Linked DNA regions of Homo sapiens. The protein of the gene in region 7 interacts with the protein of the main gene of each other region in a biochemical or structural test. Each region holds a gene or a part of one and is shown on either strand. Other genes may lie near its edges. The genes, in order: ARHGEF16, ABCC4, PBK, SLC15A5, RASSF6, MAP2K2 and PDLIM3.

Region 1 (4,420 bases), on a different chromosome or scaffold from region 7:
GCTGGGCAGAAAGGCCGCCAACAGCGCCTGGGCCAAGGGTGAGTCCCCCATTCCCCAAACCAGTGCCTCCTTCCCATGCAGGGTCGGAAACTCTGGCAGTTACCAGGGTGCGGTACTGGACTCCATCCCCGACAGAGGGAGACCACACGCCCCCAGCTCCCAGCAGGAGAGTAAGACTGCACTTCTAGGCCTTTCTATCTGTGGGGAGGCTGCCCGCTGCCTGCCCTCACCCCACGCTGGGCCTGCCCTGGCCGGGGTCCCAGGGTACGCAGCACCATGGTGTGTGGTGGGTGGTTGCAGTGCCAGCCCCTCTGAATGGCGAACAAGGAGCCCCATTGTACCACAGGTGGGGGCCCGCCCTCCCCGCTGCCCGCCACGCCCACGGCCACATGGTCCCCTCCCTTGGGCCTCAGGGTGCGGGTCACATGCCGGTCCACCTGGGGTAGGAGCAGCCATCTCCCCCAAGCATGGGGACCAATGCCGGGCCACGCTCTCCACTGAGACCCCTGCAGGGCAGGGACGGGCCCCCAATTTCAGATATGGAAAGTGAAGGAGTGTCTTGGCCCTGGCCCCAGCTCCAAGTCCCGGCCCCTCCCATCCCAGCTGTCTCCCTACGCAGATCATTCAGCCCTCTCCTGGGGCGGGGGCCCTGGGAAGGGACTCCTGGCGCCCGCAGCTCCCTGAAGGGTAGTCTGAGCAGGGCTGGCCCTCGCACGCACGACGGCAGGGCCCTGCATGGGCAGGGTGACTCTGAGGGCACAGGAGGGAGACCCCCAGGTCTGCCACCCACAGCCGAGGGGCTTCTGGGAAGGCTGCCCACCCTCCCTGGGAGGACTGGGCTGCTGCTGGGGACCAGCCGCCTGGGCTTGGGGAAGGAACAGCAGGGGGACTGTGGCTTCTCCCTGCCTCTGTGGGGCAGCCTCACCCACCCTCCGGCGCTACCTCTGGGAGCTGGCTCCAGGTGACCTGGGCGGGCCGGTAGCTCTTGACCACAATGGTGGCGTCCACCTTCTGGGTTCCCTCGGGGCTGGAGGACTCATCGAGGATGTCGTCATCAGACTCCTGGCTGGTGTTCAGGCCCCGCTCCTGGATCTCCTGGTAGAGCTGGGGGTCTAGAGAGAGAAGGAGGGTAACCTGTGGCCCTGGGGGATTGCAAAAGGCTGCGCCTCCCTGCAACCCGCCAGCTGAGTCCTCTAGGCCCACAGGCTCTCACGGCTGTGTGGGAGAGGGAGGCTTTGGGAGGGGACTGCCCCAGGCTGGGCACCAGTCCCAAGACCTCTCCTATGCCACAAGTCCCACCTGAAATGGGCTGGTCCCGGCTCAGGGTGCCTCCAAACCCTCACAGCAGCCCCCAACCAGCCTTACCCTGAGACGTGGGGCATCGCTGCTGCCTCCTGGGGACACTTCCCAGGGATTTCCGTAGAGGAGACCTGGGTACCCCCTCCTGGGCCCATGCCTGTCCACAAAGCTTCTGGGGGCTGGAAGGGGCCATTGTGTCTTGGAGCCTCAGGCCTGGAGCTGGGCACTCGAGGCCTTAGCCCTCCCCGGGCTTCATTGCCTCTAATCTCTTTACACCCCCGGGCATTTGGACCCAGGTAGCAGGCACCTCCCTATGTCAACCTCCCTGTGGGATGTTCTCATCTCCCCCGAGCAGGCTGAGTGTGCACCACCGCCACCCATGCTGGAGGCCCCAACACATGGCTCCCCTTCAGCCTCGAAGAGTCCGGGCAGAGCCCGCGGTGTGGGGCCGGTGCCCTCTGATCTGGCCTTGGTCCCCCAACACGGCCACTGTAGGCTGGGCCCAGCACACACATGGGGTGTTCAGGGCAAGACTGGGGGCTCTGTCTGTACCCTGCCCTTCAGAACACACAGAATAGAGTCCAAGGGAACTTTCTAGACCTTTCTAGACTCATCAGGGCTACATGAACAGACCAGCCACTGGGACCTCAGCCTCTGGAAGGACCCTGTCAAGCAGCTTTGGTGACCCCGAGACACCAAACTGAGGCCCACCCGAACCCCAGGGTGCCCCAGTGAGACCAGTTTCAACTGGAGCCCAGCCCGCGGTGCCTCCCGAAGCCACACTCACCGTCCTTGAAGGAACCCTTGTGCCCACGTTTCCTCCCCAGCGTCTTCTGCACAAAAGAGAGACACAGAAACCGCAGCTGTCAGCCGGGGCAGGTGTTGCCCACGGCGATTCTGCCCTGGGACCCCAGAGACCTCTCGGCTCCACATGCGAAGCTGTGCCCAATAGATGTCAGCTCCACAGGGCCTCACGGCCGCCAAGCAGAGGCCAAGAGAGGTGGGAGGAGGGCTCAGAGCAGGCAGGACACGTGACTGAGGGCTGCTTGGAGGAGGAGGAAGGGTTGAACTCATCGTGAGGGGACGCTCAGAAGAGTTTCGAGCAGGCCCGTGGCAGGGCAGGTGAGGTTGGGAGAGGGCTGTGAAGGGACAGTGGGGCAGGACACAGGCCCCTGGGGACTAGGACCTGGTGGGACAGACGAGCAAGGATTGGCCAGTGTCCAGCCCCAAGCATGGGTCTGGGGGCCCCAGCAGGAGGCCGGGATGGCAGAAGTGACGGGAGGGCTGGGCTCCTGGGAAGCCCCCACGCTCAGGTGCCCGACTCGGAGCCCACCCTCCTCGGCTGGGACACCACACTTTCCTGACGCCACAGGTATGCTGGTTCCCGGAAGGAAAGGGGCTGATTTCTCGGAACGAGTTGGGGCCTGTAAACTCCCCTTACTGGTTGGGAGTGTGTGGTGCTCCCAGCTGTACCTGGCCTGGCACCCTCAGCCCCGTGCCCCGCACCCCACCTCAAGGACTCCCCCAGCCCCCCTTCGGCCTCCAGGTCTGGCTGGAGCTGTTGCCTCCCCCACCCCGACTCCGTCCTCTCCTCCTGTCTGCCTCTGCGCTAACCCTCCTTCCTCCGGGACCCTACCCTGACCCGAGGCCATGGGGAGCCCCCTCCTCTGTGCTCCCAGCACCCCCGAGCTGCCCTCAGCCCAGCCCTCGGCATTCTCCCTGCGCTGGAGGCCCTCTGAGAACCAGGCCCATGCCCGTGGGCTCACTTTGGAACCCCAGCACCAAGCATGTGGCAGGTGCCCAGAAGTGTCTGCTGACTGCATGAAATAAACAGTGAATGAATGAACGGAGCCCCATGGGCCTGGGCCTGGTGGGTGTAGAGAGTGCTGGGGCCCTTCCAGCTGCTGGGGTGCAGGGGCCTGCGGCAGAGGTGCTGAGGCATTTCTGAGTCCTGGGCGTCTCAGGTAGGCACAAGAGAGAGCTGTGACCGAGGACAGTGGCTGGTGCTGGGGACATGGGGGACCCCACCTCAGCCACCATCGGCCTGCAGTGGACGCCCATGGGACATTCTGACAGGTGGTCTTGGCGTCTCCTGAGGCTGGCACTGCCACTCCCAGTCTGGGCAGGAGCTGGGCCTGAGGAGGCAGCTGGGACGGCAACCAGTGAAGAAGACGCTCTGGCACACACCTTCCGTGGACACTGCCCAGAGGATGCCCAGAGGGCGGCTGTGATCTTTGCTTCCACATGGGGAAGCCAAGGCTCAGGAAGGTTCAGGAACTCATCTGGGTCACACAGCACCTGCCCCCGCCCTCGTCCTTCACTGAGGCAGCCCATATGCTTGGGGCCTGTTTTCCAACACGTCTGAGCAAGGCGCCCAACAAGAAGGACGCCCCTGGGGCCAGCCCTGCATCTGCTCTGCATTCTTGAGGGTGCTCGGGCTGCCAGGGCCTCCTGATGGGCGGTTCCAGGGCAGCTCGCCTCCCCTACCCCAGCCCTGCCTGAGCCCAGACCCACCAGCTAAAGAGACCAAGCAGGGTGGCCAGAGTCGCAGTCCTGGCTGGGTGGGTGTCCAGGTACCACGCAACTCTCCCTGAACGTGGCTTCCAGCTCCAGGGCTGCCTGAAATGAAGGCCTGGCCCCCAGCCGCAGGGGATGGTGACTCCGAGGATGAGGGACACTGGGCCCAGGAGCCCCAGCTGGACGCTCTGTCCCCTGGGCCCTAGTGACACATGCAGTCAGGCTACACCCTGCCCAGCAAAGGGTCTGCCGCCACCATGCCCCAGACCTAGAGCCACCACCAGCAGGCAGGGAAGCAGGGCTCTGTGTACAGAGGGAATGTGCAGACTTCTCCTAAGCCCCAGGCCACCGCACAGCTGCCCCGCTTCAGTCCCTCCCGCCTGAGTCCCTGTCTGGAGCTGCCGGGGCAGATGGAGCCCAGGCCAGTCACTGCAGCCAGGTCACCCTGAACCCTATCATCCAGGCAGGCCGGCTCCTGTCCAGAGCTCGGAAACAGGGACTGGGCCCTTCCAGGGATCTGCCCTCCACCAAGGCTGGGAGCGGGGACACCAGAGTCTGGGGGCCTCGGTAGAACCCTCGACCTTTCCGAGCCTCTGCTGCCTCA
Region 2 (4,420 bases), on a different chromosome or scaffold from region 7:
TTGCCCTGTTGTCAGATGGTTTATGTTAGTTAGGCCAGAAGTAGCATGTGCAAAGACCCAACAGTTCCTGACACACAGCAGCCCAACTTCCTTCTTTACCTTTCAAGAATAGGAGCTGCATCTTACTCACCTTGGTGTTCCCAGTGGCCAGCATAGAGCTGCTCAATACATCTTCAGAGTATGTGAATCTCATGCCTTCTAAGTCCTCCGGGCAGAAATGTACCAGAGCTCACTTAAAAGCATAGATATTCCTTGCCACACAAACCCTGACTATCCAAATCCAGGAGACTGAAGGATTCTTGCAGATATTCAGATTAGGCCCTCACATGCCAAATTATCAGGAGTCAATTTCTGAAACTCAGGAACCAAATAGATTAGGATCATATGCTATCCCTTCCTTTCCAAACTCTGGTTACTGAGACTCACTGCTTGACCCCAGTTACTGTGTTGAGCTCATGTTTTGACCCCCTGCTCTTTTATGTTTCCATCTTGAGTGATGCAGTTGAGAGTTCCATATCTTTTTGTATATGATTTTGGAACAAGTTTCTGTATTGACACTTGAATTTGGGTGTGCTAGGTAAGTGCTGAACATCCTGATGGCATCCTTCCAGCAAGCCACGCCACAATGTCCAAATGATATTTCCTTATCTCTAGTAGAACCTTGAAAGTGGGATGGCTGGGTCCAAGGATTAGTGCATATAGCTGGGTGTGGTGGCTCATGCCTGCAATCCCAGCGCTTTGGAAGTCCGAGGTGAGAGGATCACCTGAGGTCAGGAGTTCCAGATCAGCCTGGCCAACATGGTGAAAACCTGTCTTCACTAAAAAATACAAAAAATTAGCCAGGCGTGGTAGCAGGCATCTGTAATCCCTGCTACTCAGGAGGCTGAGGCAGGATAATTGCTTGAACCTAGGAGGCAGAGGTTGCAGTGAGCCAAGATCGCGCCACTACACTCCAGCCTGGGAAACATGAGCAAAATTCTGAGTCAAAAAAAAATTAAATAAATAAAAAATAAGTGGATGTATAGTTTGGCTAGCTATTTCCACACCCTTCTCCACAGGAGATGGATCATTTTGGACTTCTGCCTGTTTCCCCACAGCTTTGTCAACAGAGTGCATTGTCATCTTTGGGAACAGTTTTGTATACTGTTTTGTCTCTTACCACCTTTTTTCCTCTGCAGACAGAGAATGTCCCAGTTACACTATCAGAGGAGAACCGTTCTGAAGGAAAAGTTGGTTTTCAGGCCTATAAGAATTACTTCAGAGCTGGTGCTCACTGGATTGTCTTCATTTTCCTTATTCTCCTAAACACTGCAGCTCAGGTAAATAATGACATTTGTTTTGCGCCCTCAAAATGATATTTACAGTACCTATGTTTATGCTATTATGACTGCATCTTGCAGTTCACTTGGGGTCTGAATTGAAATGTGCTGTCTTTGGGGAACAAAGTGAGGGCTGCCTACTGGTGTTCCATGTCCGTTACAAAGACCTGCGAAAAAAGGGTATCTTTCAATGATTTTAAAATGGAATATGCATTTTCTTGAACCCTTGATATCTGGGAGTTTGGGCTTGGCACAGACCTGAGCTGGAAGAACTATGCGAGTTCTCTGAGCCTTTTATTCTTTCTTTCTTTCTTTCTTTCTTTTTTTTTTTTTTTTTGAGATGGAGTTTTGCTCTGTTGCCCAGGTTGGAGTGCAGTGGCGCGATCTTGGCTCACTTCAACCTCTGCCTCTGGGGTTTAAGCAATTCTCCTGTCTCAGCCTCCGGAGTAGCTGGGACTACAGGCACATGTGCCACCATGCCCAGCTAGGCTAATTTTTGTATTTTTAGTAGAGATAGGGTTTCACTATGTTGGCCAGGCTGGTCTCGAACTCCTGGCCTTAAGTTGATCCGCCTGCCTCAGCCTCCCAAAGTGCTGGGGTTTACAAGCATGAGCCACCACGCCCGGCTTTGAGGGCTTTCTTTCGGTTGTCCATGTTAGCGATTGAGAGTTTTGAGTTGGTAAGTCATGCCCAAGTTTGATTTTTGTCTTTGTTGTTTCTCCCCTCCTAGGTTGCCTATGTGCTTCAAGATTGGTGGCTTTCATACTGGTAAGTTATTTCTGGTCTGATGTATGAAATACTCCAAAATCAGTAAGAAGACTCGCTTTTCCATAGAGTTAGAGGGAGGTGTTTGTTGATCCTTCTCTTCTAATCCTCACTTCGTTTACCCGAAGAAAAATTAGAGTGCTTGCTGGTGGAGTGTAAACTGCGGTGGTCTCCACCCATGTCTGATCCGCGGCATCATGTTCACAGACAGTTTCGGGAACTGAAAGTTGTGATTTAAATTGAATTTTTATAAGGTAGATATACACAAGACTAAGTGAGCTGAGAATCATTTTCCAGCATGAAGCGTTTCTCCCAAATTGTGGTTCATTTTTAAAAAAATGTATTTATCTAAATTTCATATATAGCTTAATATTTTTTTCTCCCCATGTTCCATAGGGCAAACAAACAAAGTATGCTAAATGTCACTGTAAATGGAGGAGGAAATGTAACCGAGAAGCTAGATCTTAACTGGTACTTAGGAATTTATTCAGGTAAAGTTTAATCATTTGGTGTATTGTATGAGAGGCTGAGGTGCTTACAATGAGCCTGTGTGAGTAACTAGGGCTTCCAGGAGTCATTCAGTAATGTCTTAACAGATCAGGAGTCTCAGTCGAATTTACTCTGTGAATTAATTAGAATAATTATTTTAAAAATCTACTAGAAGAGAGGTTGACTGAAGACTCTTAATTTGCTCTGTACTGGATTTTGAAAGTTAAACCAGGATTGAGCATTCAGAAAATCAGCCACTGGAAATATGTGGCTATTGTCTATTCTAATAGGTTGCTTTAGCTAAATCTTATATCATTATACGGATGGGCAGGGGGATTAGAAACGGATCTCCACCCTGTGGTTCGGATGGTTCCAATTCTGTCTAAATAAACCCTGGCTTTTATTGAACTTGGATGAAATCCTCTGGCAGCAAGGCCCCCAAAATAAAAGCATTATTCCCTCCCAGGTATGCAAAGCTCCCTTCAGCACTGCTCATCTCCTGGGCTTCACTAATTACTTAAGAGGGAAGCTGAGCAGGGAAAAATCCAGTGTCTGGGAATTAGGATGCCTTCTATTTCTTACCTTGAGATCACAATGTTATCGCGTCCCCAACTGTGTGATTAATTTAACATTTGGCTTGCCAGACTAATATTAACGCCACACTCTGTTTTCACAAGAGTGCTTAGAATGTATGTAGCATTACATACTGTTTAAAGAAAATCTTCATCTAAAATTTTAAATATTTCCACAGGAAATGCTCCTACAAGCTTTCCTCAGAGATAGAGTGAGTTATCTTTGTAAGAACCTACTCAGTGAAATTTGGTGTTTATTTCATCGATCGCTTGCTAAGAAATCTAAATCTGTTAGGTGTTTACCTTCCAACTGATGGACTATGTGGAAACTAAAGGAAGAAGGAAATCTATTATGTTCTATTATGTTCGTGTAGGATGGCAGGCTAAGGATAATGCCCGTTGATGGAGTTAGGAATTTGAGCTGCTTTCAGAGGTTAAATAACAGTGACATGTCATCTGAAAGGGAAATATTTGTTATAGAAGTTACCCCCACTGTATTTAGCATTGTGAATGAAGAGATGTTAGGAAAGCTCTTTTAATTTCTATGTGAATAATGGATCCTCATTCATGTCTTAATAAAATGTATGATTTATTTTATTCATTTAAAAATGTCTTGTGTCTATGTAAAACAGTGGGGGATTAGTTGCTTATTTAGATTAATTATCTTATGTTAAAATATAATTTGTGTTTTCTTGCAATTCAATTATTCAAGAGGTTTTCCACATGCAACTTAATACGGTATTTTTAAATTCTTTAAAGCTACTTGGGCATTTTCTACAAGGAAAAGGTAAATCATTTCTCCTATTCCTTGTTAATATCACATGTTGGTATCAAAACATACCACCTTTTTTAGATTATGGGACATAATGTAAGTAATAAGATTTGGAATATGGAGAAGATCAACTACACTTCATGATTATCTATCCTACTTCTGAGTTTTTAATAGAACTTGCAATTGAATTAGAGCCTAGAATGAAATTGTATTATACACCTGATTTTTCTTTTCTGTGCAGTTTCCATTCAGTGAGAGAAAAATAAACTATTTTAATCCTTCTTTGTCAATGTATTTTGTAAATACATTATACTTATGTAGAATCCAGATGCTTTATGGAATAAATTAAGTAACATCTTTATAAACTACCTGGCTTGCTTTAGCAACTATTGAAGAAAATGCAGAGATATGCTGTGTTCTCTAAGTGATATTTCTTTATTTCAGGTTTAACTGTAGCTACCGTTCTTTTTGGCATAGCAAGATCTCTATTGGTATTCTACGTC
Region 3 (4,420 bases), on a different chromosome or scaffold from region 7:
TAGTGGGCTTGGAAAGGATAAAAACAATGTGTATGTTTAAGCTACAATTTTAACCCAGAAGTCTATATTTTTTTTGTTAAATCAAGTTTGCATTTCTTGGTTAAATCCAACATAGTTTTGATGTAGTATTTTTAAATAAACTGATGGATTCAGTTTGCTAATATTAAAGTTTATTTCAATTTTTGCATCTGATATAAGTGAAGTTGGCTTGTGGTTTTCCTTTTTCTACTGTCCCTTTTGATTTTTTAAAATTAAAGTTATATGAGACTCATAGTACCTTTTCTGTTCCCTGGGGAAACAGTTTGTATAAGATTGAATGGTAAATTCTTTGAAAGCTTAGTAAACTCACCTGTAAAATCATCTGCACTTTGTATTTCTAGTAGGAACATTTTAAACTGGTGATTAAATTTCTTCATTCATCAGTTTTCTTAGATTTTTCTAAGTCTTTGACCATTTTGTCTTAAATGATTGCATAAAGATTTTATTTACTTACATATTTTTTCTCTTGTATCTGTAGTTTTGTTTCCATTTTTATTTGTGATATTGTCTTTATTTTTTCTTGTGTAATCTCATCAGAAATTTGCCTTTTTTCTATTAGTCTTTTTAATGAACCAGCTTTTTGCATGGTTGAGTATTCAGATTTCATAAATCTATTCTTATTCGATAGATTAGAATATGTTATGGAAAAGGTGAAGATTGACTTGTTTACTAAATTCTAAACTTTCAAGAGCTAAACTTTCAACCCTTGAAATTTGAAAAATATATTTTTCATAATAAAATGATATGCAGGTGCTCATCATTATCCTCAAATGCTGCTGTTATTTAAAACTGGAGGTTTAAGAATAGTTTAGATCAACTTACGGATGATAGATGTACATGAATTAAGAAATCTTGTGATCCTTTTAGTATAGGCTTTTTGATTAAACAAAAAAGGTTCTGCAGTCTTAGAGCTATACCTGTGAGGGAGTCCAAAGCTAAACAGATCTTTGATTCAATCTCTTGTTTTGTGTTCTTACCATTAAACTTTCTGTCTTAAACTTCTGAGGCTCTTTCACTAGGTTTTGTGCTGTTATGCTGCATATACTTAAGTATTTTGTGATTTGCTCTACTCATAAATATCTACCACCTCAGGTAAACCTTTCCCTGACTTTATTTTACCTATTTAGGCCTTAAAACATTTATACCTTAAATATTTGTAAAATGGCTGAATCTTCCTAGAAAATAGAAAGTTTAAAATTTTCTCATTTGTATGTTCATCATTATCTCCTTAAGCACATATCTTTGAGCATGTGGTAAAAGGTATAAGGTGAATTGGTCAGTGTAGGGGAGCAATAAGAACAGCATGCTGTTCTTTGGATGATGATATATGGGTAAAATGTTCTTGATTATCTCTTCTTTAAATTTCCTAATGTTTTTTTCTTCAGGATCCTATAACTCATCTCTGATACATATAATTAAATATTTAATAAGTTGTAGTCCAACATGCTCAAATGGAAAAATTGGAAAGTTACAATTTTCAGGTTTAAAGTTTGTAACATTCCATCTTTACCCTTCAAATTCTTTTCATCCTCTCCCTTCCACAGTATAGATAGTAAGACTTGTTTTAGTATATTAGATCTTACCTCCCAATTGAAATGGAAATGTAGCAGAGGTGTTCATAGTCCAAACTATTTTAAATTCTGTTTTTAAAAGCAAATTTCTTTCAAGCTTTTTCCCAAAAATTTGGAAGTCATTTTAAAAAGTATTGTGGTTTTATTGTTTTCTATCCTTTTTAAATGAATTTTTTTCTTAGATCTCCAAGAGGTTTGTCTCATTCTCCTTGGGCTGTAAAAAAGATTAATCCTATATGTAATGATCATTATCGAAGTGTGTATCAAAAGAGACTAATGGATGAAGCTAAGATTTTGAAAAGCCTTCATCATCCAAACATTGTTGGTACGTTTAAATTTGGTAGCAGTATCTGGTATATTATTTTGTTTATTCAGAAACAGCTTATATGCTCTCTTAACTGGTTTCACTAATAGAAATGAAGAGGATGGGGCTGGATATTTAATGGGTATCAAATTAATGTGATTGGTCTAAAATAAAAATTTGCATATAGTATTTTTTGATGCCTAAGTATATAAACTTCATGAGAACAGATATAATAATTATGTTGCTAGTTCTATGAAGATTTTAAGAATATAAAATGATCTTCATTTAGATAATTTAAATCCATTTAGGTAATTTCCTGGATTTCATTTTTCATTTTTAATACAAGTAGGGCTGGTGAAACTATTATATTTAGGGAAGCAAAGGAAAATAAAAGTATTTTAATTTGTGGTACTACTGGCAAACACTGAAGGCATTTTAAATGAGATCTACTGAATTAGTCTTGTAAATAGTAGCTGTTTCATTGTATATTTGTCAGCGTTAGTCCAGATCCATATTTTCAATCACGTTACTATAAAGGACTTAAATATTATTGTTCTTCTCTATATTAGTGAAGAAATGTCATGTTTTCTTTAAGGTTATCGTGCTTTTACTGAAGCCAATGATGGCAGTCTGTGTCTTGCTATGGAATATGGAGGTGAAAAGTCTCTAAATGACTTAATAGAAGAACGATATAAAGCCAGCCAAGATCCTTTTCCAGCAGCCATAATTTTAAAAGTTGCTTTGAATATGGCAAGAGGGTTAAAGGTAACTATGTCATTATATTTTAAATGACTTCTGTTTTTGTTCATATTTTAAATGAACAAATAATCACTTTGCAGGACATCTTTGAATGTGGATGGATATTGTTACTTGTCAGTTCCAAAAAGGGGTTAGCGGAAAACAAAATAGAGGCTTACATTTCTGCTTCCAAATTACATTCATGTGTAGCTTAATATGTTCTGAGAAATGTGTCATTTGGCAGTTTCATCACTGTGCGTGCGGACATCATAGAGTGTACTTACACACACCTAGATGGTAGAGCCAACTACACACCTGGGCTATGTGGTATATATAGCCCAGTTCTCCTAGGCCACAAACCTGTATAGAATGTTACTGTACTGAATACTATAGGCAGTTGTAACACAGTGGTAAGTACTGTGTGACTAAACATATCAAAACATAGAAAAGGTAAAATCAAAATATGATATTATAATCTTATGGGACCACCGTCGTATATGTTGTCCATCATTGACCAAAACATCCTTATACGTACATGTGGCCCTAGTCATTCATTGTCCCACATGGTCTCAACAATTTATGTATGCTTCACTGAAGATTCCAAAATTATTTCTAAAAATTACTAGACTAGCCTCAAAATTGTGGTATCTTTTGAAATCTGCAGTTGTATCTTCTGATATAAAGTATGTAGGATTAGTTAACTTACCAAGTTAACCAATTTATAAGTATAGTTAACTTATAAGCTGTCGGTATATATACATACTTATATATAAAAATAGTTAACTTGGCTGGGTGTGGTGGCTCACGCCTGTAATCCCAGCACTTTGGGAGGCCAAGGCAGGCAGATCACGAGGGCAGGAATTTGAGATCAGCCTGGCCAACATAGTGAAACCCCATCTCTACTAAAAATACAAAAATGAGCCGGGCATGGTGGCGGCACCTGTAATCCCAGCTACTCGGGAGGCTGAGGCAGGAGAATCGCTTGAACTTGGAAGGCAGATGTTGCAGTGAGCCAAGATCGCGCCACTGCACTCCAGCCTGGGCAACAAGAGCAAGACTCTGTCTTGGAAAAAAATAGTTAACTTATAATTATTTATTTTATAAGTATAAAAGGTTAGCAGAAGTATCTATTTCTAAATAAACTTTTAGACTTCTGGTCAGTATGGCAGACTGAGATAACATGGGATGTTCCCTTCTCTTGTTTCAAATACTTTGAAATGCTGGGCACAGTGGCTCATACCTGTAATCCCAGCACTTTGGGAGACTGAGGCAGGCGGATCACTTGAAGCCAGGAGTTCGAGACAGACCAGCCTGGTCAACATGGTGAAACCTCGTCTTTACTAAAAATACAAAAATTAGCCAGGTGTGGTGGTGCCCGCCTGTAGTCCCAGCTACTTGGGAGGCTGAGGCAGGAAAATCACTTGAACCCAGGAGGCGGAGGTTGCAGTGAGCCGAGATCGTGCCACTGCATGCCAGCCTGGGCAACAGAGTGAGACTCCGTTTTAAAAAAAAAAAAAAAAATTTTGAAACGCTGGACAAATGTAAACCTAGAGTTTAGGAAGGGAGTTCAAGTTGTTATATTTGGAGGTTATCACATTTTTTTATTAGTTTGTGTTTCTGCACATATGTGTTAAATTTTTTACTATTTTAGTATCTGCACCAAGAAAAGAAACTGCTTCATGGAGACATAAAGTCTTCAAATGTTGTAATTAAAGGCGATTTTGAAACAATTAAAATCTGTGATGTAGGAGTCTCTCTACCACTGGAT
Region 4 (4,420 bases), on a different chromosome or scaffold from region 7:
AAATAGTGTCTATATGTGTATGTATAGGCATATGTAGCTATCCGAGGCAGTTCCTCTTTTCTCTTTCTTTCTTTTTCTTTCTCTTGCTCCCCTTTTTTCTTTCTCCAATTATATTAATATTACAAAGCACTCAGCCCTATTTTGGATTAAGTCCTAATGTCAGAGAACAATGCAGTCTTACCAAAGGTAGAAGGGACTCTTTACTTCCTTGCAGCAAATTCTGCCTCCTTGACCTGCCCAAAGGAGAAAGAAAAATCCTTCTTTTTTATTCTATTCGGAGGTTTTAATCCTTAATTAGCAACATCATTTTGATTAAATAAGACTCTGGAGGATTAAGACTGGAGAGCAATCAGTTGTTCTGAAAGATAGCTCTGGAGAATTTATTGTACTGTGGTCTTAGTCATTCAGAGTTGTGTTTAATCAAAGTGACATTTCTCAGTGTTGATTACAAAGGAGACATTATATGAATGAAATATTTCCTTTGGGAAACAGAGGGGACTCCCACTGGGTGTGTGCTTTAGGGCTTCAGGAAGGGGGATGGGGAATGGGGTGAAAATGAATTTCTGCAGCTGTAAGGAACCAGGCCAAATTTAGGATGAACATATTTAGATTTTTAAAAATTATTTTCTGATTTCACTAAACAGCTCACTATTTTAAAAATTTAAAGCATCTAGAAATGTGTATAAAGAATCAGGCTGTTATTTTTTAATGTGATAAAAGAACTGGATGGTAAGATCCTTGAAGGCTGAATCTGGTTGTCTTGCCTTTTTTTATTTTTCCAGTTTAAATACTAAACTACAGGCCAACTTTTATGAATGTTCACTTACCTTACTGCAGTTTATAGCAATGAATGCTGATTCCATTCCTGTACACAGTGCGGGGGCTGGTGACAAGATGGACAGAGACTCCACTGGGCAACCAGACAGCTGGCAGAATCCTGGCTCTGTCACTTAGGAGTTTTATGGTCTTTGGCAAGTTCCTTAATTCCTCAGAGCCCCAGGTTCCTCATCCACAAAGTGGGAATATCTTGGAGAGCTATTGTATCACTTATATATAAAGTATCCTAGCATATTATAGGTATCAAATTATGATAGCTATTGTTATGATTATTGCTAAATCATGGATAAGCCATCAGCTGAAACCATTGTCTAAATGCTGGGAAAGAGGGAACCCATTTAGGAGGAGGTCATCTTTGAAAGGAGCAGTTTATTAATGTGTAATCTATGTCTTCCAGTCAAAAATGCCTCTAGAAATTACAAGACTGGTAAATATAACGAATTTCAGCCGTGCCTTTAAAAAACAACATACCCCTTGAATCTGTAACCACTTGAAGGCTTTATTCAGTCCTATTTGCAGCACAGATGTCAGATGTTCATAGTTATGGGACCTTTAATGAGATGTGTCATTGCTTCTATACCACCTAAAGCTTCCCAATGATCATGTTAAGTAGCATAGACTGGAAGTCTCAGGCACTGAAAGCACCACTTCCGAGTAAAGCTGCCAAATGTAGGTGAGAAAACCACTCCCAGCCAACATTACCATCTGGTACTGGATCTTCCTCAACTAATGCACCTCACTACAAAAATAAAGCTAAACTCCCTGAAATCAAGAGACATAATAATCTGCCAACATCCTTGTGTCATTATCCAGATCAGAGCCTGGCTTTCCACATATTCCAAAAGCTGAGATGGACAATTAAGAATCGCCATACTGGAGATCACCTAGGTAAATACACCTGTGCAGATTCTTTTCTGGAAGCAAAAAGAAGGAGGATAATGAAGTCTGTTCCTGGCCACAATTTTAAATTCTACCACAATTAACCTCAAATCTTGCTTCTGCATTTCTCTACTTTCTTCACCTGATAATTTGCATCCTATCTGCATATCACAGTCTGTTGCTAAGGGGTTACTAGGGTGAATTATATACATGATTAAAAGCCCAAATAGAATATTGGTAAAGTTCTTGAAGAAAGTCTAGAGACTGACTTATTTCACCCCAGAAATGTTGACTATCTGGTACTCAAATTGACTCTACATGGTATCTGAAATATTCTGATTTTAACACTTACTCAAATTAAATATATTTTATCTTAGGGAAGCACTAGAGGTAAAAATGTATTATCCCACAGCATTTTTCCAGAATCTATTTTAATATTCACAAGAACATTGAGAACAATGATTGTCAATCCTAGGTGCATATTAAAGCCACCTGAGGATTCTTTTTTAAAAAGTACAAATGCCTGGGTCCTGCCACCAAAGATTCTGATTACATTGGTTAGAGGTAGGATCCAGGGACCAGGATTTTTTAAAGCTGCCCAGTTAGAGTTGAGAACCACTGTTCCAACGCAGTGTTGCTCATTTTAATTATCACTTGAGAACCTTGTTGAAAATGTTTCCCAGGTCCCACCTCGAACCTCCTGGATCAGAATTTTCTGGGAGGACAGGTGGGAAATGCATATTTTAAACAAGTACTGTCTTAGTCTATTCAGGCTGCAATAACAAATCAGCAGAGATTGGCTGGCTTATAAATAGTAGAAATTTATTTTTCACAGCTCTGGAGGCCAGAATTCTGAGATCAGGGTTCTGGTGAGGGTTCTCTTCCTGGCTGTAAGACTGCTGGCTTCTCACTGTGTCTTCACATAGTGGAAGGGGCAAAGGAGCTCTCGGAGGTCTCTTTTATAAAGGAACTAATCCCATTCAGAAGGGTTCCACCCCTATGAGCAAAAGCCCCACCTCCCAAATACACCACTCCCTAATACCATTGTTATAGGAGGTATAACACCTAATACCAAGTTAAGATTTCAACATATGAAATTTGAGGGGACAGAAATATTCCTACCATATCAAGTACTTCAGGTGATTCAGAAGAACAAAGTTTGAAAACAACTCCAGAGCCATAAGGAAAATCTAGTGATGCCTTTGAAAAGAAATGAAACTAATCATTGATTGAACCCACTACTGTGTTTCAGACTGCTTTGGAACTTTCTGACAATTTTATAGCAATTATCTCACATTTAGAAATCTGCCTGATTGAGAAATTCAACATAATTCTGAAAAGAGAGAGAAAAAAATATAAATCTACATATACTCTTCAATCGTAAAATCATAATTTATAAGGTACATTTCAGCAAACAAAATCAAAGCAGTTCATGAAATAATCTTATTAATACTCAAAATGTCCTTTGAGTTGCATGCTGAGGAGTAGTAGCTTGTAAATAGCTATGAAAAAATCACCAGACCTTCCCAAATTCTATTTGCACTGGCTCTAGCCAAGTTTAACAAATGCTACCCTCTCACCCTAATAACAACAAGCACTTCCTTCTTTACCTTTGCGATCTGAGCTCACTGCAACCTCCGTCTCCCGGGTTCAAGCAATTCTCCTGCCTCAGCCTCCCAAGTAGCTGGGACTACAGGTTCATACCACCACGCCAGCTAATTTTTTTGCATTTTAGTAGAGATGGGGTTTCACCATGTTGCCCAGGCTGGTCTCAAATCCCTGAGCTCAGGCAATCTGCCCACGTTGGCCTCCAAAGTGCCAGGATTACAGGCATGAGCCACAGAGCCGGGCGCATGTTCTCTTTTAAGCTTGAAAGGTACATGAGTCAGGACAACTGTTAAAATTTGGGTGTTGGCCAGGCACAGTGACTCACACCTGAATCCCTGGGCTCTGGGAGGCCTAGGCAGGAGGATCACTCAAGGCCAGGGGTTCGAGACAAGCCTGAGTAACCCCATCTCTACCAAAAAAACATTTTTTTTTAATTACCCAGGCATGGTGGGGTGAACCTGTAGTCACATGTACTTGAGAGGCTGAAGCGGAAGAATCGCTTGAGCTCAGGAGGCTGAGATTACAGTGAGCTGTGAACACCCTGCACCAGTCTAGTCTGGGTGACAGAGTGAGACCCTATCTCAAAAAAAAAAAAAAAAAAAAAAAGGTGGGGGGTGGGCGGGGGTTGTTGGCAAAAGAATGAGGGAATGGGAAAGGAGGGAGAGGGAATGGGAAAGGACAGAAAGGGAATGAAACAGGTTAAAGAGTAAGAGAGGTAGGGAGAGCTTGGGAGAGAGAGTAAAGCAGTCCCCCAAATTTTTAAATTAAAAACTTAACTTCTTCAATCCTAATGTCTAGTTACCAAAATCAATATTTTATTAAATTGTCTTTAACAGCTCTGCTGGAAAAAAAAATATGTATTTACAGATAAAAAGGAACTCTAAAGTTTCTATTTTCCCCTTCTTTCTCCAAATATTTGGCTGCCAGAATATTCTTTGAAGTACTTCAGTGGCCAATGGTTATGCTAAAAGAAGCAATGATTGACAACAGCCATCCACCATGAAATCGGTGCCCAAGTATTTTATTTCACTGACTCCTCTAAACAGTTCAGTTTTATCCCACTGAAGAGTCACAAATCCCCTGGAAAATTATCTGA
Region 5 (4,420 bases), about 110 Mb from region 7:
TATAAGAAGCTGCTATCAGTGGTTCTTCAGTTCCAAATATCCCCAGTGTCTGGTGAGGGAAGCAAGCTGTCTGGTTCTTAGATGGTCTTTTTGCTATGCTCTGACATGGTGGAAGGGTCCAGGCAGCTTCTGGGGTCTCTTTTATAAGGGCACTAACCACATTCATGAAGTCTCCACCATCATGAACTAATCACCTCCTAAAGTCCTCACCTGTTAATACTATTGCATTGGGGGTTAAGTTTCAACATCTAGGTTTTGTGGGGACACAAACATTCAGACCACAACAGAGGGAGGCCCTCTAGTAGGCTGACGCAATAATCCAGGAAAAAGATGATGGTGGCTTGGCTTAGGGTAGTAGCAGTGGAAATCAAAGCTTTCGAATTTGGAATATGTTAGTGGTACAGTGAATAGGACTTACTTTTGGATTGAATTTGGCTTATGATGAAAGAGGGAAAAAATGAGACTAAATATTAGTTTTGATGCCTAGATGGGAAAGAATTGTGGAGGAGGAAATTTTAGAGCATGGGAGAAAGTCAGTGGTTCTTTTTCAGCCATGTAGATATCGAGATGCCTGGTACACATCTAAGTAGAGATTAGGTAGGTGGTGACATGCGTCTGGAGCTCAACAGAGATTATGGGATGGAGACAGATTCGATTACCTGGAAGAATGTATAGATAGAGAAGAAAGGATGGCTGAGAATGGACACTCAAACAAGCCAGTATTTAGTGATCATACAAAGGAGGAATCAGCAAAGGAGACTAGTGTTGAGGCCTGTGAGATAGCAGGAAAATAGAGTGAGGTGATTGTTATTCATGGTTTGTCTCAAAAGCATCAAGAAGAAAGTGTTTTAAAAGGTAGGAAAATCAATCTTGTCAAATGTTGCTAAGAGGCCGAGAAATGAGGAGAGAAGTGAACTCTTTGGCAAGGTATAGGCTCTTGGAACATGGATGGAGAGGTGGAGGTAGGGCTAAATTAAAGGAATATATGATAAATAATCTGGACCCAGGAGGAAGAAGGAAGTGTTTGGACCCCAGGGTCATCACTGGGGGATTTCAGTCGGGGACATTAATAACCCTTTTGGTGGGTTATTAGAATGACAAAATCCAGGGGCAAAACTCAAGTTTGAGAAGCTGGAGGAACCTGTGTAACCTGTATAACCAAGTTGCCCAGACCAAATCCTGTGAATAAGTAACTGGGATTCACTGGGCTCATGGAGCATGTTGTGTCTGTGTGCCCAAGGCAGCATAAAATGCCCATGTGGCTTCTGACGTATAGAATTACTTTGCCTGGTGACTAAGCTTCTGTGTCTCTGGTATGAGTCCTCCAGGTGTCCTGCATGAGACCTGCCAATGATGTGCTATCAGAGGATGCCATTTCCAACTAGAGAAGCACAATTCTTTGAGCAAGAAGATAGCAATAGAAAAGAAAGTAAGGTATAAATCAATAATGACAATACAAGGTAGAAAGCAGAATGATGACAACAGTGTGGATTCAAAGGACATGGGGAGACTTTAAGATTTCCCACTGGGGACTAAAAGGGACCAGATATCTGGACCTGCAGTGAGGAGGGCCCTCTGCTGCCAGGGGAAATGGGTGAGAAAAGACTCAATGACATGAAATTTCATTAGATTACAAGGCCTGGTGTTGAAGAAATGTTTCAATTTGGAGCCTGGAAAGGTAGGTTTGAGTGGAATTGAAGAAAACTTGAGAGTCAGGTTAAGGGACTTGGGCTGTATTTATTAAGAAAGATACCAAGATGGTTTGTGACCAAATAGGTGATGGGATGATCGGAATGATAAAAGCCTAAAATGAGACTCCAGCCAAGCATTCACCCTGAAAACTGTAACAAAGTACCTAGTGAGTTTAACAACATGCTATAAAGAAAAATATGCATCAGAGATTTTATGAGAATAGAAGAATAGCTTTCCTGTTTTCTTTTTTTCCTGGTACTCTGAAGAGTTAGGACATATAATTTCCTAATTTTTATTCATCTTACCCAACCCAAATAACCAGATTTGAAAGGAAAAGGAGGAAATCCACCCCCTTATACACAACGTTTTTTTTTTTAAAAAAAAAAAAAAAAGAAAACTGAACTCTCTCATCCATCTTTTTTATTCTGGCTCTATCCCCTAAAATCTTATAGACTTGGAGCCATGATAACTGAATATTCAATTTTTGCAAAATGGAATGAACAGAAAATATTATACTTTACATCTCTGGTCACACCCTAATGCCATTTATATGAACATATAAAGGAGGAGATTATTCACATCTGACCACAGTTTCCAGAGCTTGAAGGAGACTTGAAAAATATTACATCATACCTAATCAACTCTTCAAGTCAGAGCTTGATTTTAGCTGCCTAGAATTGCAGTTGTCTTCTGCTGATTGGGGCAAGGTTCAGCCAGTTTGGGTGAGTTATTGCAATAGAAGGAATATGCTCCCTTATACAGAATTATATAAATCAATAGAGTCATATTTATTTTGCTAGAAATATATCTAAAACAGACTTACCAAATTGTTCAATCCATCCGTGTCTGGAGTTACTGTTTCTGTAGTTTTTCATTTACATAATACATTTTTCTGTATTTTTGCTCACACATGACATACTACTTAAAAACTTTCTAAAACCTTCTTATACTCTAGAGACACAACAAAACACTCAACTTAAATCAGAAACTAATTTTTTAATGCATTATAGGAACAAATCATTAATATTATTCTCATGTTTAGGATATCCTCAGACCATCTCAAAAAGGAGGAAAAGATGACTATGATGGCTCACCAGTACCCCTCTTGGATCTTCATTAATGAGAAGACATTCATAACCAGGTAACCACACACCTTATATTATACATTGTCCTACTCACCAGTCATTTGTGGAATATACCGTCAAAGTTTTCTAAGCATGATGTATGGTCAACAAGATCAATAATATGAATCATCAGTAGAGATACTAGATAAGAAGTTGGAAAAGTATGTTCCTAAAGACTCTCAAATTTACTCTCATGGAACAATCACTAATATTTTGTTTAACAGTGGTTTTACTTTATTAAAAGCAACATTTCTGTTTTAATAGTTGGGATAATATTGAAGAGCAGCATTAGGTGAAAGATCTAAGGCTTCTCATAAATGATAGTTCTAAAGAATTAACCCCAGGGCCAAAAACATTATGTCCTGTCCTAACCTCTCCATCCCTTGCTCCTCATGACACTTTATTTTTACTGGTTCCCTCTTGACATTAGATTATGCAATATATGGCCAACATCCACAGCTTTTCTTGTACGCAGCAAACAGTATCTCATATTGCTTTGGGAACAATAGAGTAAGGGCTTAAAAGCTATAAGAGTAGAGATGAAAACTGAAACTGGCCAAGCTACAGCAGAGGCTGGGGGCTGAGAGGAGATGAAATCATGAAAAAATAAGTGGTACTGAAACATGACCCAAATCTTATGGGGGGTGGAAAAAGGAAAAAAGCCAAATAAATGACAGAGAGAAGGAGAAGTGAATGATGCAGGGTTGGGCAGTAGGAAAGTGAAGGAAACAAATATGATCAAATATGGAAATAAAGCCACAGCTGAAAGATAAGGATGAACTATAAGCAGTGGGAAAAAGACCTGATGCAAAGGATAAAGGATCCACTGACTTATTCCTCAAACACTTACTGATTACTCACTGTGAGCAGGTGTATTTTTGGACCCTGAGCATTCAGTAATGAACCAAACAAAACCCTTACTCTCATGGAGTTACATCATAAAGTCGGGATGCAGTCAATACATAAGATAAATGCTGAGGAAATGGAGTAAAGAGTGCTAGAGATAGAGAGCGGAAAGGGTTCTGATTGCATATAACCTAGTTCCTTCCTCAGTGAGCGGGAAGCACTGGAGGAAAAGCCTGCAGAAAGGGAGAAAGCAAGCCATGCAGCTTTCGCAGGTATTCCAGGCAAGGGGAATGGCAACTCCACAGCCCTAAGGCAGATGCATATTTGTAAGGGTCAGGGAGAACAGTGTGGGGAAATGGAAGTAGAAAGACAGCAGGAGAAGAAGCCAAATGGGCTCAGAACATGTAGGGTTTGATAGGCCATTATGAGGCTTGATCTTTCCCACTAAATAAGATGAGAAGCTGTGGAAGGATATTGAGCACATGAGTGGCAATATCAGTCTAGCTGCTGTGTTAAGAACAGAGTAGAGAGGGGACAAGAGTGGAAACAGAGAAGTTACCAAGGAGCTGACAGTCCAGGGTGGAGATGAAGGTTGCTTGAACCAAGGTGGCAGCAGTAGAGGTAGAAAACAATGGTCAGATTCTGGATATAGTTTGAAGACCAACACAATAGGATTTCCAGAAGGGTTAGACATGGGTGTGAGAGAAAGAGAATAACCAAGGATAATTCTAAAAATTTTGATCTAGAAAAATGGAGTT
Region 6 (4,420 bases), on a different chromosome or scaffold from region 7:
TTTTAGTAGAGACGGTATTTCACCAGGTTGGCCAGGCTGGTCTCGAACTCCTGACCTCAGGTGATCCACCCACTGTGGCCTCCCAAAGTGCTGGAATTACACACCTGAGCCACCGTGCCCGGCCAAACTGGGTCCACAGTTTTAAGCCCAAGCACTGGGGAGCCTGGCCTGACACACGTCCCCGGAGCGGGAGTGGCCGTGTAAGCGGTGCCAGCAGGGCAGGGGCAGGCCTTTCCCGCGCAGGGGCAGGGGCGGGAAGAGGCGGGGGAGAGGTCGGGGGATGTGCTCACTGGGCATGGGTGTGGCTGCTAGGTGCAGGGAGAGCTGGGTCACCAGGGCCACCCCACCTGGCTCCGTCATCATCTCGCCACCCAACCCCAGGCCTAGCCCAGTCTGCAGGCAGCTCAAATGCCCGTTTCTCTGCCCCAGCTCCAAAGGGCCACCAAAGACACAGAAACCCACAGAAGGCCCAGGGAGGTGGCCCGGCCTGGTCACGTGGCCAACAGGACCTTGGGGTGCAGTCCTGTGCCTCCCTGACAGCTGCAGGCCTGGAAGGAGGCCGCGTCCCTCCTTGTGCCTTGTTTTACTCATCTGGGCGGTGGAAACCCTCATACTGTGGCTCACTGGGTTGTTATGGGGACTGACGGAGCAGGAGCCACCCCGGGACCTACAGGTCCTTCTAGGCTCTCTGGGCCTCCTTCCAAGAGGCAAGGGCCATTCCTGTACCTTTCTCCGTGGAAGCGGGGTGATTTATGAGTCCACGCCCACGGGCGCCAGGACGCTCTGATGCAGAGACACTGGGCCACTGCTCAAGGGGCAGGCTGGCTCCTCGGCCTGAGCCCAGGGCTGCTGGCACACACCTCCCTCTGGACTCAGGGTGAGAGGCTGCGGTGGGAATTCTGGGTTCGTCTTCATAAAAAAACAATGCCCTTGGGAAGGAGCTGGGCTTGTGCAGCACAGTAGAAGATGGGAGACGCGACACACGTGGAATTGGTTCAAGAATTGCTTGAACCTGGGAGGCGGAGGTTGCAGTGAGCTGAGATCAAGCCACTGCACTACAAAGCTAGACAATGTCTCAAAAAAAAAAAAAAAAATTAGCTGGGTGTGGTGGTGCGCACCTGTAATCCCAGCTACTCGGGAGGCTGAGGCACGAGAATCACATGAGCTTGGAAAGTGGAGGTTTCAGTGAGCCGAGAAGGCACCACTGTACTCCAGCCTTGGTGACTCTTGCTCTGGTCAGAGAGAGACTCTGCCTAAAAAAAAAAAAAAAAAAAAAAAGAAAGAAGAAAGAAAAGGAAAAGAAAAGCCAAAAGGCATCAAGCACAAACCTCGTTCACAATATAGTCCAGGAGTTCAAAGATGGCCATGGCAGGCCGGCTATCCATCCCGTGACCTGCACAGGGAGAGAGATGGAGGTGAGATGGGCCGATGGCCACCTCACTTCTGCTGGGGGTTGGGCTCCCAGGGGGCTGATCACCACCAGGCGCCCTCCTCCACATGCCAGCCTAAATTGGAGGCGGGTGTGCAGAGGCACTGGACAAAGCTCCCCTGCCTGACTCTGGGTTCCATTCCCTGGGACAGCTACTCCTTGCCTGAGCCTCTAGTGAATTAAAAAAAAGGCAAAAGGAACAAGAACATTTTTTGAGAAGTCACACATTTGGCTCGGTGAGGCTTGCCGGACGTGCCAAAGTCATCACCCCTCCTCTCTGGAGGGCAGGGGGAGGGACGGTGCTGACCGCAGGCAAGGACAGCCGCGTGACCTTGCATGGAGCTGCTGGCGGTGATGGGGGCAGGCCCCAAGTGCCACTCAGGACGGGAGACTGGCTAGGGGTGGCTGACCCCTGTCTGAGAACCAGCTGGCCAGGCCTGGGCTTGGCAGCTGGACTTTCGCCTTCTGCCCGTCCTGAAATGGGCAGGTGGGCTGGGGCCCTGGGCTGGGGATGGTATACCACCTGAGAGTTGGGACTGGGAGAGGCTGAGGCTAGGCCTGAGGATAAGGACTTGGGGGCCTCTCCCTGGGATGAGATCAAGACATCCCAGCAGTCTGGCTGGAGAGGAGGAGGTGGGCTTGCCAGTGCTATGAAAATCTCCTTCTCACAGCCCCAATCCATCCGGGTAGGACCACAAAACGTGGCCTGTTCGTGTCATAAAATACTACTCAGCCTTTCAAAAGGACCCAGGCTCTGACACGCACCATGGCGTGGATGACCCTTGAGGACACTGCGCTCCAGGAGAGAAGCCACACACAAAACACAGAAGGCCACACAAGTGTGTGACCCCATTTCTGTGAAATGCCCAGGACAGGCCAGTCCAGAGGCAGGAAGGGGATGGAGAGTGACAGCTGATGGGGACAGGGTTTCCTCTTGGGGAGCTGAGAAGGTTCTGGAATTAGAGGTGATGGGGCGCAGCACTGTGACTGAAAACCACTGAACTGCTCACCTGAAATGAGTTGTGGGGTGTGTGCTTTGTAGTTCGGAAACATGGTTTTAAAACCAACCACAGTCCGCTACAGGGTCCTTTGGGGTCTGACGCCACCAACTCTCCCTGATGTCTGACTTTAAAAAAAATCACAGGACCCTCCTGTGATTCTGCACCAAGCAGGGTCCGCCCCCGGCTCTTCCCTCAGGCGGTGGAAGTGTCCGCTCGGCCCTCTCTGACTGGCGTCAGGGAGCTCCCGCTCCCGAGGTGCCCGCCCTAAGTGCCGGATTGTCCTCTGCGAGCCCAGCTGTCCCTGGGGCCTGAGCCCTCCCGCCCCCTCCCGGGCTGTGTCCCCTCCTGTGTGTGTTGGGGCCGGAGCCAACAGGCCACTGAGGGCCATGCCAAGTCCAATCTCCACTTCAGGACTCCCTGGAAGGCTTGGCCCGCAGCACAGGAGCGTGTCACCTGCAGAATGCAGGCTCTGTGGCGGCCAATTCCTTCCACTTTTCTGTGCGTTTGAATGCTTTCGGGATAAAATGTTGGAAAATCCAACTGCCCAGGGGCTTGGTGGCAAAGCTGCGCTCCCAGATCCCTCCAGCTGGCAACAACAGGTGCAGCTGCCCCGGACAGAACAGGTTTGGGGTGCTCACTGCTTCCAGCTCTGTCCCCGGAAACCCCAGGACCATGGGAGGACTGCTGACCACAGTCGGCACCATCCAGGGGGACAGGTGGTGCGCCAGGGGCAGAGGGGAGGCAGCTGCTGACCCTGGCACAGCAGGCCCCGCGCAGGGCACTGCGCGTCCAGACCGGAAGTTGCAGATTCAGGCCGTACCGCTGACGGGGCGCCCGGGGGGCCTCGGCCGAGGCGAGATGCTGTGAGGCTCTCCTTCTTCCCCGTCGACCACGGGCCGGCCAAAGATGGCCTCCAGCTCTTTGGCGTCGGGCGGGGGGATGGGGTACCTTCCGACGGCCAGCTCCACCAGGGACAGGCCCATGCTCCAGATGTCCGACTGCACCGAGTAATGTGTGCCCTGCAACCGCTCCGGCTGCAGCAGAGCCAGGGAGGAAAGAGCCCAGAGGGGCGAGGATGGCAGCTGGAACCCGGGAGGCTTGCCCCGTTACAGCCCCCGTCACCCTCTCCATGGCTAATGACCGCAGCAATGGATAGAGAGCTGTTACGCAATTCTACCTCCCGGCTCACCCACCCAGGGCCTCCCTGCGGCACTTGCTGAAGAGGCTTCCAGCCCGAGGCCTGGAGCTGGTGTTGACCGCAGCTCTTGAAGAGCCTGCAATGCTCAGCACTTTTGGGAATGGATGATGGGCCCCAGGAAGCAGGGGCCTCCTCCTCCACAGCTAACATCTCAGAGGCTGCTCCAAGGCTCAATTTGGCAGGTTGCTGAATCCCCAGTCGTTTCCTGAAAGACCCCAGATTCCAATTCCTTGGTCCAGAAATTAACTAAGGGCCGGGTGCAGTGGCCCATGCCTGTAATCCCAGCACTTTGGGAGGTTGAGGTGGAAGCCCAGGAGTTAAGACTAGGCTAGCCAATATGGCGAGACCCCATCTCTACTAAAAACATTTTTTTAAAAGTTAGCCAAGGCTGCCGGGCACGGTGGCTCACGCCTGTAATCCCAGCACTTTGGGAGGCCGAGGCGGGCGGATCACAAGGTCAGATTGAGACCATCCTGGCTGACATGGTGAAACCCTGTCTCTACTAAAAACACAAAAAATTAGCCGGGCGTGGTGGCGAGCGCCTGTAGTCCCAGCTACTCGGGAGGCTGAGGCAGGAGAATGGTGTGAATCCGGGAGGCGGAGCTTGCAGTGAGCGGAGATGGCGCCACTGCACTCCAGCCTGGGTGAGAGTGTGAGACTGTGTCTCAAAAAACAACAACAACAACAAAAACAAAAACCAAATTACCCAGCTGTGGTGGCACATGCCTGTAGCCCCAGCTGCTTGGAAGGCTGAGGCAGGAGAATTGCTCCCGGGTGGGAGGCGGAGGTTGC
Region 7 (4,420 bases):
AACCTGAAATTAAATCAAATCTTGATTGTGATGTACTCATAAATCTAATTAAGAAAAGCATTTTATGACCTCTACATAGAAGCTCTAAAGGTTTAGAGATACAGATACATGAATTTACCATCCCTTTTGAAACACATGTTCCTGCTAAACTGATTAGATATTCCCAGCATGTAGTTGTTCTATATAACTGATGAAAGGGAACTGAAAACGTATTTGTAATTTATGTTTAGCAGTATTTCCCCTTTCAAGAAAATCAACTCCTGAATTTGTCCTTCAAGTTTTCTACTTGTCTCCATAAGCCTCTGATTTCTTTTGTGAAAAGATGTTGAATAACATCAGTACATGTGTCTCCTAGGGCTTCTCAAAAATTAGAATAAAATAATACAAGCAGAGAAGTTGGCACATTGAGTTATTCATAGAAATACTCAAGTAAGTGGTAGCTGTCCTTATTATCAGTACGTTACCCCCACCCCAGGCTGGGATCCGAAAGTCTCCTGGCGTTTCTTGCTGGTGAGATAGTTAGCTGCCTACATGATAGGACATCCTAGAGGCTAGGAATGCCTTCTTCATTGCTATTACGAGGGTCGTGACAAATGGAACAAAGCTTTATTTTCAGTTAAAATATAATCTCTCCTGGAGAAGAAGGATCCTGAGTAATGTAATCTTTAGAGGAAATGAGTTTATTAGATTGTTGTCGTAGAGTTTTGACTAAAGGGAAGGTAGAGTCTGAATCTAAAATCCACTAAAAGCAAAAGTAGGAGAAAATAAGCCCCAAAAGGAGTGAGCAGGACAGAGAATATGTTCATGAAGGCAGGAACCTTGAGGCTGTTGTCTTCCCTCTGAGTCCCTCCAGCTCAATAAATAGCCCACAGCTCAATAAATAGCTGACAAATGGATGAAAGGAACTGGAGGGCCTAAAAATGAGCTGTGCATTTTCTAACATTGCCAGGACCTGTCCTGGGAGCCAGTTCTCAAAATGGTGTTCTGCCATCACTCTCAGCTGTTGCATGGAAAGTAATCTTGAAAGTTGAGTGGGGCCAGGCGCATTGACTCACACCTATAATCCTTTGGGAGGCAGAGGCAAAAAGATTGCTTGAGCCCTGGAGTTTGAGACCAGCCTGGGCAACATGGTGAGACCCCATTTCTATAAATTTTAAAAATTAACCAGGGCATGTTGGTACACACCTGTAAGTCCCAGCTACACAGAAGGCTGAGGTGGGAGGAGTGCTTGAGCCCAGGATGTCGAGGCTGCAGTGAGCTGTGATTGCACCACTGCACTCCAGCTTGGGTGACAGAGCAAGACCCTGTCTCAAAAAAAAAAAAAAAGAAAAGAAAAGAAAGTTGAGTGGGATACTTAGGCTAGGTAAGACTTTTGCTCTTTGGGGTAAGTGAGCAAAAGAAAATGGATGGCACAGATAATAAATATAATGAGAAGGGATCTGAATGCTGATGGCGACTCCCCCTGACATACTAGGTGGGCTGGTGAATAATGACACCTCTAGTCAACATTTTCTTTGCTAGAAGAAAATAGTGGAAGAAAAAAGGAAAGTTCTTGAGGTAGAGTTCTCACTTGTATCTAGCCTTTTGCAGAGATGCCCAGGCTGACCTGCTTCCTCCCACCGTCATCAATTTATCACCTGGAGGTGACACATGAGAAAAAGAGACTATATGGTGCTTTTAAGAATTAAAGTCAATAGACATGCACTTATTGACCACTCAGCCTCTTATCATTACCTGGACCAACCAGAAGGGACTCTGCATTTCCTTTTCCCTACACAGCACACATCCAATATTGCACTGCATCCTTTGCAACTTATTTTTCCATGCAAGAATTTCTCCTAATTTTTAAACCCAATTTCGTTAATATGAGATGCAAGAAATGAGGCCAACTAGATAGATCTGACCGAAGTACCAAATCCCCAGTGATCCTTCATCATGGTTGCATCCGTCACCCCAGCATGTAAGTAATTCAGCAAGTATTTACTAAGCACAAAGTGAGTTTAGACCAGGATGGGAGCCCACGTTTTGCTAACATCTCTCCAGAATTGGAGTTTAAGGGTAATTTTCCAAGTTGTAGCTCTAGCAGAGGCTTCTATTGCAAGTCTATGAGTATTAATTTATGACTATGGTTATTCTAAGGATGGGATTTTAAGGCATAATCCTAATTTTAAATACTCTGACCTCTTGTCAAGCATGTATTAGCCCTTGTGTCCTACATTTGGGGGTTAGAAAATATGAATATTTACAATACTACAAATGAGAAAAAGGAGATTAAATTGTTTTTTTTTTAAAGGTTGAGATTAGGTTAAGGGCTATAGCAGCCAGTCAGATGGAGCCTTGAAACATTCCATGACTTTGCGTCATGACTAATTCTTACTGACATCCTCTCCAAGAGGCCGGTGTTTGAAATGCTCCAAGATAAGAACAATTCAGTTCTACTAATGAACCAAAGGATTTCTACTCCTTATGAGACTCTTAGGCCAGATTTCTGCACGGCCAGTTTATGTAACTTGGTACTTCAGGACAGACATTCCCTACACAAAAATAACTAAATTGCAGTGTATCTCCTGCTATCCAAAAATCCTTTAGCGTAAACCAGAACAAAACGTGCTGATAAAAGTCAAACAGTGAGTTTCACTTGTGGACTGAGACGAGAGAAAAGCTAAGCTATGGTTATAGGGTTTTTTGTTTTTCTAAGTAATACAAAGCTGTGCAAAAAAGATGTCTTTTTCTTTTTTATCAAAATGACAACTCTGCAAATACAGCAATCTTCTGGACAGCAAATACGTGTCAGTTAGAGAAACAAATGCCATTAATATTATCATGCTTCAGGATGTCATTGCAGATGAATAGCAAAAGGCCATGGAACAATATGAAATTTGAGTTTTTGTTTCTCAACCCAAGTCAAACTTTTATTGTAAGTTATGTGACCTTTGACATTGGAATAAAATACACTTTCTCACTTACTTATTGGGGAAAAAACTATACCATCCAAGCCCAGCCACAGATATTAAATATTAGTATGTTTATTTCTGGGGGTTTTTTTCCCCTGTGAATAGGTTTAAGCTAAGGAGACATTTTCTTATATGGTTATAGGAATAGTTGATATAAAATTTTAATATCTAGATTTTTAAAATGTGGCCGGGCATGGTGGCTCACGCCTGTAGTCCCAGCACTTTGGGAGGCCGAGGCAGGTGGATCACCTGAGGTCAGGAGTTTGAGACCAGCCTGGTCAACATGGTGAAACCCTGTCTCTACTAGAAATACAAAAAATTAGCCAGATGTGGTGGCACACGCCTGTGGTCCCAGCTACTGGGGAGGCTGAGGCAGGAGAATCACTTGAACCCAAGAGGTGGAGGTTGCAGTGAGCCAAGATCGCACCACTGCACTCCAGCCTGGGCAACAGAGTAAGACTCCGTCTCACAAATAATAATAATAATAATTTTTCCATGCTATCATCAAATAGCTAAGTTTTGTTTCTCTGAGTTTAGACTTGAATCTTAGGCTTAAAGGGCACGTTAGTTGTTGTTTAGATCAACTCCCAGCACCTGAATAAATGCCTTCCATGCAATCCTGAACACAATCTATTTTTCTCTATTTTTCTGTACAAAAATAGACAAAATGGTCCATTTTTTAGTACGAAGTGTTGCTCTTGACTAAGAGTATGTTAATGAAGCTCTTTGTCCTTTTTCAAAGCTTACATTCTCAAACCATAACCCTCATATTTGCTTAATGTTAGTGGAACAACTCAAAGGTATACTGTGCCTGTCACAATACAAGAAAGATGCTTTCAGAAACAAAAATGGTTCTTATCTAAATAAGAAGAAAGCTGTCTCCATTTCCATAAAAAGGATTGCATCCTTGCCAGAGAAGATAATAGAGTTTACATACACAGTCAAGAAGAGTGTGGGATAAAGTCATTTTTATTTTCACAAATAAAAAGTGTTTTGGTAACTGGAAGGCAGCCCATATAAAACAAGCTTTCATAGTCACCATTTCCTCAAGCTCTTCCCAGTGAGAGATGGGAAACACTTGAAACTGCTCACTGGAGAAAAAAGGATGATGAGGGTGACTTTACTGTTTATTTGAGGGGTGAGTATGAGGAGGAAGTGATTCTAAACTTCAAACGTGATGAAATATAATTTCTTCATCATGCCTTGATCAAATATAAGATCACTTCATAGAGTTTGTTTCTCTTATATGCCCACCATTTTTTCATATATATATGATTTGATTTTATATACACATATGTATACATATTATATATAAATATATATGTGTATACATATATGTGTGTATATCTATGAATCAAACATACTGTTTCTGTTGGAGATGGTTCAGAATTATAAAGATTATCTGAATCTTTATCTGTGAGCAGTCTCCAAGTAAGAAGTTGAAAGGTGAAGCCTTTGACTGCTGT

What was found.
Region 1: the proteins of PDLIM3 (region 7) and ARHGEF16 interact in a test that uses a peptide from one of them, tested with the Homo sapiens proteins (one large-scale study listed by IntAct).
Region 2: the proteins of PDLIM3 (region 7) and ABCC4 interact in a test that uses a peptide from one of them, tested with the Homo sapiens proteins (one large-scale study listed by IntAct).
Region 3: the proteins of PDLIM3 (region 7) and PBK interact in a test that uses a peptide from one of them, tested with the Homo sapiens proteins (one large-scale study listed by IntAct).
Region 4: the proteins of PDLIM3 (region 7) and SLC15A5 interact in a test that uses a peptide from one of them, tested with the Homo sapiens proteins (one large-scale study listed by IntAct).
Region 5: the proteins of PDLIM3 (region 7) and RASSF6 interact in a test that uses a peptide from one of them, tested with the Homo sapiens proteins (one large-scale study listed by IntAct).
Region 6: the proteins of PDLIM3 (region 7) and MAP2K2 interact in a test that uses a peptide from one of them, tested with the Homo sapiens proteins (one large-scale study listed by IntAct).

The regions. Positions count from the first base shown.
Region 1 is NC_000001.11:3,463,860-3,468,279, reverse strand, and holds part of ARHGEF16 (rho guanine nucleotide exchange factor 16), read right to left. Parts: intron 2,133-4,420; coding exon 2,087-2,132; intron 1,479-2,086; exon of another isoform or gene 1,366-1,478; intron 1,113-1,365; coding exon 943-1,112; exon of another isoform or gene 930-942; intron 1-929. UniProt on the Homo sapiens protein: Guanyl-nucleotide exchange factor of the RHOG GTPase stimulating the exchange of RHOG-associated GDP for GTP. May play a role in chemotactic cell migration by mediating the activation of RAC1 by EPHA2.
Region 2 is NC_000013.11:95,161,277-95,165,696, reverse strand, and holds part of ABCC4 (ATP-binding cassette sub-family C member 4), read left to right. Parts: intron 1-1,178; coding exon 1,179-1,319; intron 1,320-2,049; coding exon 2,050-2,087; intron 2,088-2,480; coding exon 2,481-2,575; intron 2,576-4,361; coding exon 4,362-4,420. UniProt on the Homo sapiens protein: ATP-dependent transporter of the ATP-binding cassette (ABC) family that actively extrudes physiological compounds and xenobiotics from cells.
Region 3 is NC_000008.11:27,820,578-27,824,997, reverse strand, and holds part of PBK (lymphokine-activated killer T-cell-originated protein kinase), read left to right. Parts: intron 1-1,792; coding exon 1,793-1,935; intron 1,936-2,509; coding exon 2,510-2,679; intron 2,680-4,303; coding exon 4,304-4,420. UniProt on the Homo sapiens protein: Phosphorylates MAP kinase p38. Seems to be active only in mitosis. May also play a role in the activation of lymphoid cells.
Region 4 is NC_000012.12:16,267,244-16,271,663, reverse strand, and holds part of SLC15A5 (solute carrier family 15 member 5), read left to right. Parts: intron 1-181; exon of another isoform or gene 182-1,751; intron 1,752-2,838; exon of another isoform or gene 2,839-3,369; intron 3,370-4,420. UniProt on the Homo sapiens protein: Proton oligopeptide cotransporter.
Region 5 is NC_000004.12:73,610,144-73,614,563, reverse strand, and holds part of RASSF6 (ras association domain-containing protein 6), read left to right. Parts: intron 1-1,320; exon of another isoform or gene 1,321-1,434; intron 1,435-2,734; coding exon of another isoform or gene 2,735-2,768; coding exon 2,769-2,833; intron 2,834-2,887; exon of another isoform or gene 2,888-4,420.
Region 6 is NC_000019.10:4,095,951-4,100,370, forward strand, and holds part of MAP2K2 (dual specificity mitogen-activated protein kinase kinase 2), read right to left. Parts: intron 3,465-4,420; coding exon 3,251-3,464; intron 1,394-3,250; coding exon 1,329-1,393; intron 1-1,328. UniProt on the Homo sapiens protein: Catalyzes the concomitant phosphorylation of a threonine and a tyrosine residue in a Thr-Glu-Tyr sequence located in MAP kinases. Activates the ERK1 and ERK2 MAP kinases.
Region 7 is NC_000004.12:185,518,306-185,522,725, reverse strand, and holds part of PDLIM3 (PDZ and LIM domain protein 3), read left to right. Parts: intron 1-4,420. UniProt on the Homo sapiens protein: May play a role in the organization of actin filament arrays within muscle cells.